Homo sapiens: one gene and its partner. The protein of the gene in region 1 purifies or fractionates together with the protein of each later gene. This does not show direct contact. Each region holds a gene or a part of one and is shown in the gene's direction. Other genes may lie near its edges. The genes, in order: AVEN and APAF1.

What was found.
Region 2: the proteins of AVEN (region 1) and APAF1 purify together in Homo sapiens (affinity purification with western blotting; one study listed by BioGRID and IntAct). This does not show direct contact.

Annotation. Positions count from the first base shown.
Region 1 is NC_000015.10:33,871,601-33,875,424, reverse strand, and holds part of AVEN (cell death regulator Aven), read left to right. Parts: intron 1-3,824. UniProt on the Homo sapiens protein: Protects against apoptosis mediated by Apaf-1.
Region 2 is NC_000012.12:98,662,157-98,665,980, forward strand, and holds part of APAF1 (apoptotic protease-activating factor 1), read left to right. Parts: intron 1-299; coding exon 300-412; intron 413-518; coding exon 519-650; intron 651-2,894; coding exon of another isoform or gene 2,895-2,923; exon of another isoform or gene 2,924-3,202; intron 3,203-3,396; coding exon 3,397-3,635; intron 3,636-3,824. UniProt on the Homo sapiens protein: Oligomeric Apaf-1 mediates the cytochrome c-dependent autocatalytic activation of pro-caspase-9 (Apaf-3), leading to the activation of caspase-3 and apoptosis. This activation requires ATP. Isoform 6 is less effective in inducing apoptosis.

The DNA of each region.
Region 1 (3,824 bases):
ATTTTCTTTGTGTGTATGTAATATTTTCTTCCCAAGGAGTTCTGATTATTTTCCAAGCAGGCTTCCTCTAATTCTTTTCATATAAGAGATGACAGATATTCTCCCCCTTTTAGGATGCACATAGGGACATAGTGGTGACTTGTGATATGCTCCCCAACTCCAGGCCTAGAGCATACTGTCTGATAAACTGATTACCATCTGCCCCCAGCTTCAGAGAGGTGGCTGAAGCTGCAGACCCGAAGCCCGTAGGCACTGTCCTCCCTGTTCTGCTCCCACATCAGCGTATGTGCTGTGGGTGGCTCGTTTGATCTGTGGGCTGGTTTTAGGCTCAATTGTTTGGGATGGCCTTTGACGCATACGGATTACGAGGAGGGGAGTCTCTTAGAAAATGACTGCCTGGCACTTTACAAAGAACGTGTTATATATGCCATAGAAAAAGGTGAGAATTACAAATATTTGTCTTTGCTTAAGTCTGGGCCTACGCCTGAGGTACTGTTTAGTATTCTAGGACACATCGAAGATAGATTGTTGAGGAATATGGTAGAAGCCGAACAATTTACATTTCATCTCCTTTTGAACCATACTGATTACCAAAGAATATTTCAAGTAGCTTCAGAGTTTCAAATAATTCTAAGCTTCGTCATTCATCAAAACATAGAGCACTTGTTTACTAAATGTTTTTATTAAATGGAGCTTATTCAAAGTGAATGAGACAGACCATGCCTGTTCATTGCTCTAAGCCCCTTACCTGGGCACACTCGGTGACCTGTAGTCTGTAGTATGGTAGATGCTCAGTAGATATTTACCTAATACATGAAAAAGAATACAACCTAAAATAAGGGGTGTGATGAATGAATTAACAATACTGAGAGAGATAGCTACTTTGCACTGGAAGTGATTAGAATTGGTACCATGGGGAAAAGATCATTTGAACGGGTCTTGGTGGACAAGTGTGACTCTGGTAGGTCCTGTCTGAGGAAACAACATGAAAATGGTAAGATCAGGAAAACGAGGTTATGCTCAGAGAAGGGTGTGGCCAGAGTGTAGTATTCCCAGAGGAGGAGGCCTCAGGGGCAGGTGTGGGCTAGTTAGTACCAGCAGTTTCAGACCTGAGTGTGAATTCTAGATCTGAGACTTGGGCAAACTTTTTCCTTCTCTATTGCTTCACCTGTAAAATGGAGGTAATAACAAAATATAACTCAGAGTTATAAGAAGGACTAAATTAGATAATAAATAAAAAGCCCTTGAGTGCAGTTCCTGATGCATATGAAACACTCAAAATGAGCTCTTTTATTACTAATATTATCTGTTAACAAAGTTTTGTTTAGCAAGAACATGGAAATGGTTAGATCTAACTTCAGCAGTATTGGGAAGGATGGGGAGGGATTGAACGGATGAGATGAGAGGTTAGAGGCAGGGAAACCGATTAGGAGGATGTGATGTTGGACGAATGGGAAAGAACGAGAGCCTGAGAGGGTCAGGCAGTGAGCGTGGGACAGGGGTTACTCATAGACAAGACTTGAGTGGAGGATGGGGTCAACTGTGCTCACTGGCCAGATGTGAGACACAAGGACAAGAAAGATTTGCAATGGCACTATGCTTTCTAGCTTGAGTAACTAGGTGAGTGGTGATGCCATGAATGGAAAAAAATAAGAGCAGAAAGAAGTTAAGTTTGATTTTGAACAGTTCGAGTTGGAGGTGTTGGTAGGACATGGCTGAAACTGAATTCATTTCACCATCAAAACGATTTCCTGTCTGACTTAACTCCTCACTAAATTTTCTTCCTTGTTGATGTAAGAGAAAAAACTGGATATATATAATATATAATACGTATTATATATAATTATATGTAATATATAATACGTATATTATATATTGAGTGCATATATATAATATATATTATATGTTGAGTGTATATATATATTATATATTATATATATGTACACACACACATATATGTAATTTGTTGTTCCTTATACCATCCCATGTCCTCAGTGTGACCAGTGACGCAAGACAATAGAGAGGGGGCGGGCGCAGTGGCTCACGCCTATAATCCCAGCACTTTGGGAGGCCGAGGTGGGCAGATTACCTGAGGTCAGGAGTTCGAGACCAGCCTGGCCAACATGGTGAAACCCTGCGTCTACTGAAAATACAAAAATTAGCTGGGCGTGGTGGGGCACGTCTGTAATCCCAGCTGCTTGGGAGGCTGAGGCAGGAGAATCGCTTGAACCAAGAAGGCGGAGGTTGCAGTGAGCCGAGATCGTGCCATTGCACTCCAGCCTGGGCAACAGAGAGACTCCATCTCAAAAAAAAAAAAAAAAAAAAAAAAAGAAAAGGAAAAGTAGAAATATGTTTTGTCTTTGCAGTTAAAGGGAGTGGGAGTTTGATAGGGAGACATGTCCAAAATCCTCAAGGGAATCCTGGCAGGAGAGGGACCGGGCGTCACGGCTTGGACTTGGCGTTCGTTGCTCTGTGGCTGATACGCAGGGTGAAGGGACACAGGTCGGCGGTCAGGGTGCTCTGATCTAGCTATGTTGGCCTCCATGACCACAGGGGTGTCGGTCTCTTAGATCCACAAGTGGGATTCTCATACCTTTCCTTTGGACAGGGTGGGTACCATGTAAAGAGAGGATGAGTGGGAAGGTAATTTCCCTGGGTGAACAAACAGATTTATTATTTTTTAAATCACCTAAGTTTTTAAAATTCCACATTAAATTTCTGTTGACATGGTGACTTATCCAGTAGGACTTCCTTGGGCAATATACTGGCTGCTGAGCAAACTGCTGGCTGCTGAGCAAACTGCTGGCTGCTGAGTGATATGCGGCCGTTCCTGAGGGCCTGGCTTTTAAAGGCACAGATTCCCGGCTCCCCCCACGCCACCCAGAGAGTTCAGTTCTGTGGGTGAGGCCTGTGAACCTGTATCTTAAAAAGCTGCCCAGCTTATTACTCCACCATACCATGTACACATGGTCTCTGGGCCCCAGGCTCATATGGACAGTAATTGCTGTAGATTCTGAGGAGGATGTAATAGTCTGATTGAAGGGTATGTTTTTTAGCTGCAAAGTGAAGTATATAGCGGGTTCTTTTCTTACTAAAGAGTGTGCCTTTATACAGATACTGGACACTCAGAGTCTTATGATTCCTGGCCAGAGAGGAAGCTTCAGGCTTGCAGATTCTCAGCACACAGACAGGGTCCTGTGCACACTGATGGCAGAGAAGTGGGACAGAAAGGCTTTGTCCTACAGTCAGGACTGGCTCCCCTCTCCCCAGCACTGGAGTGTCTCCTTTCTCTTTACACCCCACCCCCATAGCATCCTTAGTGGGTGTTGTCTGCTCCTGTCTGCAGCCAGATGTCGTAGGCCAGGCCCTCTACTTCAACTGCCAAGTGGCTGCCAGGGTTGACCAGGCTGACATGGGAGCTGGGTTACCCAGGCAAAAATAATGCACCGAATACTTTAAAACATGTACAAAATGCTGATTTATTATTATTCCAATTAAACCTATTTTTAAAATTCACAGTTTAGTATTAAAAGCAATTCACTGCAGCTAACTTTATATCTAAGGCCTTCTTCAGCTTTAGCCCTTTATGGGGCAAACTGGTGACCAAAAAAGAAAGCCTTCTTACAAAGTGGCTTTTTTTTTTTTTTTTTGAGGAGACTAGCTCGTTTGAAACCTTCGCAACACCTGTCAGTCCCTTCTCACTGCCTAAATAGCCCTTTCCTCTTCTGAGGCCAGCAGTCTGAATTTAGAGAAGAGATCAGGTTAGATTTCATTAAATGCTTGCTTTTCTTTCAGCTTGTCAGTCATTGCAAAAGCCTCCACCG
Region 2 (3,824 bases), on another chromosome or scaffold:
TTTTTTTTTGGCACTCAGTAAGTGATGGCTGAACCTTTTATGGTAGGATCTGTAATTTTAATATGTTCTGATTTAGGGTTTGAGGAGAAGGCAGTCTCTAATTTTTTTTTTCCTTATTTGAATCAGCATATTGAGAAGAGTATAGCAAAGAGGAAGAATCATTTTCCTAGATCTAGCCATCTATTTGTTTTAAAAAAAATTTAATTTGGTAGATTTTAAAAGACACTGGTGGGATTATCTTTTTAAAAGGAAGCTTAAGATAAGTGTCATTAGTGATTAATATTTTTTTTTTAAATTAGGTCTCTCTTGATCTTGGATGATGTTTGGGACTCTTGGGTGTTGAAAGCTTTTGACAGTCAGTGTCAGATTCTTCTTACAACCAGAGACAAGAGTGTTACAGATTCAGTAATGGGTAAGGATTATTCGTTTACTTTTTAGTACCTTTATATTTAATTTAATTACATTTAAATATGTGACATACCAAATTACTTACTTTGTCTTGTGATTTTTGTTTGCAGGTCCTAAATATGTAGTCCCTGTGGAGAGTTCCTTAGGAAAGGAAAAAGGACTTGAAATTTTATCCCTTTTTGTTAATATGAAGAAGGCAGATTTGCCAGAACAAGCTCATAGTATTATAAAAGAATGTAAAGGTATGGTTATTTATTTGTTTATGAGGAGATTATAGGGAGTTATATAATTTCCCTTTTGTTAATTGAGCTAATGAATATGGTAATTTAGCACATGAACATCCAAAAACTTTTCTGGGAGATTTAGTATTTTAGGTTCTCTGATATCTTAAATGGATACATGATATTATGGTATTTATTTATTCATTAAAATAATATTTACCATCTACCCACAGTGTGTTAGAGACCACATTAGTGAGAGAAGTGAGACACAGATGTGACCTCTGCTGTTAGAGTTAAAAATAGAGTGAGAATCAGATTTTAAAACTTGTTTTTGCTTGGGATTTTATAAAAATAGTGTTCTAATTTGGTAAGTAAAAACTGGTGTCTTAATTTGCATTTTTTTTTAGCGAAGTTAAACTTTTTACTTGTTTATTGAATACGTTTTAAGAAGTTATCCTTGACTTTAAGAAATTATCCTTGACTCACTTTTCTTTTTTGATATAAGTATTTTTAATTTATTTCTAAATACTCAAAAAATAGAAACTATTAGCTCTTTGTCATATTTTTACAAGTATTATTTCCCAGTAAAACAATTTTTTAACTTAAAATTTATATATAGAATCTCGCTGTGTTGCCCAGGCTGGTCTTGAACTACTTGCCTCAAATGATCCTCCTGCCTTAGCCTCCTAAAGCACTGGGACTACAGGCATGAGTCACCATGTCCAGCCTGTTACCCAGTTTTTTGTGTACCTTTTATTTGTTGTATTCTTTTGACATATAGAAGCTTAAAATTTTAAACAGTCAAATCTATCAACTCTTAAAATTATTTCTTTCATTATTGTTATGCTTGGAAATACCTTATTTTTCTTCTTTTTCTTTTTTTTTCTCTTTTGAGACAAGTCTCACTCTGTCGTCCAGGCTGGAGTGCAGTGGCGTGATCTCGGCTCACTGCAACTTCTGCCTCCCAGGTTCAAGCAGTTCTTCTGCCTCAGCCTCTCGAGTATCTGGGACTACAGGCATGTTCCACCATGCCTAGCTAATTTTTGTATTTTCAGTAGAGACGGGGTTTCGCCATGTTGGTCAGGCTGGTCTCGAACTCCTGACCTCAGGTGATTGCCCGCCTCAGCCTCCCAAAGTGCTGGGATTATAGGCATGAGCTACCATACCTGGCCACCTTATTTTTCATTCTGCCATCAAATAGACACACAGTTTTGTTTGTTTATTTATTTATTTATTTATTTTATTTATTTTTTGAGACGAGTCTCACTCTGTCGCCCAGGCTGGAGTGCAGTGGTGCGACCTCTGCTCACTGCAACCTCTGCTGCCCAGGTTCAAGTGATCCTCCTGCCTCAGCCCCCTAGTAGCTGGGATTACAGGTGCGTGCTACCTCACCCAGCTAATTTTTGTAGTTTTAGTAGAGATGGGGTTTCATCATCTTGGCCAGGGTAGTCTTGAACTCCTGACCTCGTGATCCACCTGCCTCAGCCACCCAAAGTGCTGGGATTACAGGCGTGAGCCACCACACGTGGCCAGTTTTGTTAATTTTTAAAGAAATCTTACACTTAGAAAAAATGCTTAATTTGTAGTTATTACAAAGGGTGATGCATGTCCATTTTGAAAATGTGTGAAACTAAAAAAAAAATAGAAATTATCCATAACCTGATAATTATTAGCATCATGAGAGTATTGCCTCCAGTCTTTTAGAACAAAGATTTAAAAAGTTGAGATTATGTATATGTGGTTTTGGATTTTGCCCTTTTTTTTTTAAAGAGCCAGGGTCTTGCTCTGTCACCCAGGCTGGAGTGCAGTAAGATCACAGCTCACTGCAGGCTTGAATGTCTTGGCTTAAGCAATCCTCCTGCCCCAGCCTCCTGAATAGCTGGGACTGCAGATACCCACCACCACACCTGGGTAATTTTTAAATTTTTTTGTAGGGACAGGGTCTCACTATGTTGCCCAGGCAGGTCTCAAACTTCTGCCCTCAAGCAATCCTCCCACCTCAGCCTCCTGAAGTGCTAGGACTACAGACACATGTCGCCACACCCAGCTGGATCTTACCCTTTTTCTATATCTTGAGCATTTTCCCATGTTGTTAAATATTTTTTTGAAAAAAATTTACCAGTGGCATAATATTGATATATCTTAATTTATTCAACCACTTCTGTATTATTGGACATTGTTTACGTTGTTTAAGATTTTTTCACTATTCTAAGTGTGCTGTGATGAATATCCTTAAACTTAATCATTCTTTTCTTTTTCTTTAAGACAGAGTCTCACACTGTTCCTCAGGCTAGGATGCAGTGGTGCTGTCATGGCTCACCGTAGCCTCAACCTCCTGGGCTGAAGCAATCCTCCCACCTCAGCCTCCTAAGTAGCCGGCACTATAGGCACACACCACCACACCTGGCTGATTTTTCTAATTTTTATTTTTAGTAGAGACAAGGTCTCATTATATTGCTTAGACTGGCGCATATATATATATATATATATATATTTTTTTTTTTTTTTGTAATGACATCTTAGCCAGATTTGATCTATGTTATTTTGACTTAATAAAGATAATCAGGAACTTACTGAATGAAATCTTTCTTATTTCTAATTTTTTTTGGGATAAATATCTAGAAGTGAAGTCAAGAGTGATAAATACTTAAGGCTTTTGATAACATGCAGCAGAAATTGTTTCTTAGTAATGTAAGTAAGTAAGTCGATTCTTATTAGTGACAAAATAGGATGGTATTAGCATAGTGACTTCATTTTTTTTTTAAAGGCTCTCCCCTTGTAGTATCTTTAATTGGTGCACTTTTACGTGATTTTCCCAATCGCTGGGAGTACTACCTCAAACAGCTTCAGAATAAGCAGTTTAAGAGAATAAGGAAATCTTCGTCTTATGATTATGAGGCTCTAGATGAAGCCATGTCTATAAGTGTTGAAATGCTCAGAGAAGACATCAAAGATTATTACACAGATCTTTCCATCCTTCAGAAGGACGTTAAGGTGCCTACAAAGGTAATGGGATCAATGATCCTCATCATTGGGTATTTATTGCATGTAAGCTTTGATATAGTACTGAGCATGTTGTTACAGAGAACCTTGGAAGGATAAGACCCAGGGGACTGAGGTGGTGGGGTGTTGGGTGTAGAAATCCCTCTGCTGTTAGCTTCCATTAAGGGCTTTGTGTTGAACTCAGGAGTTAAC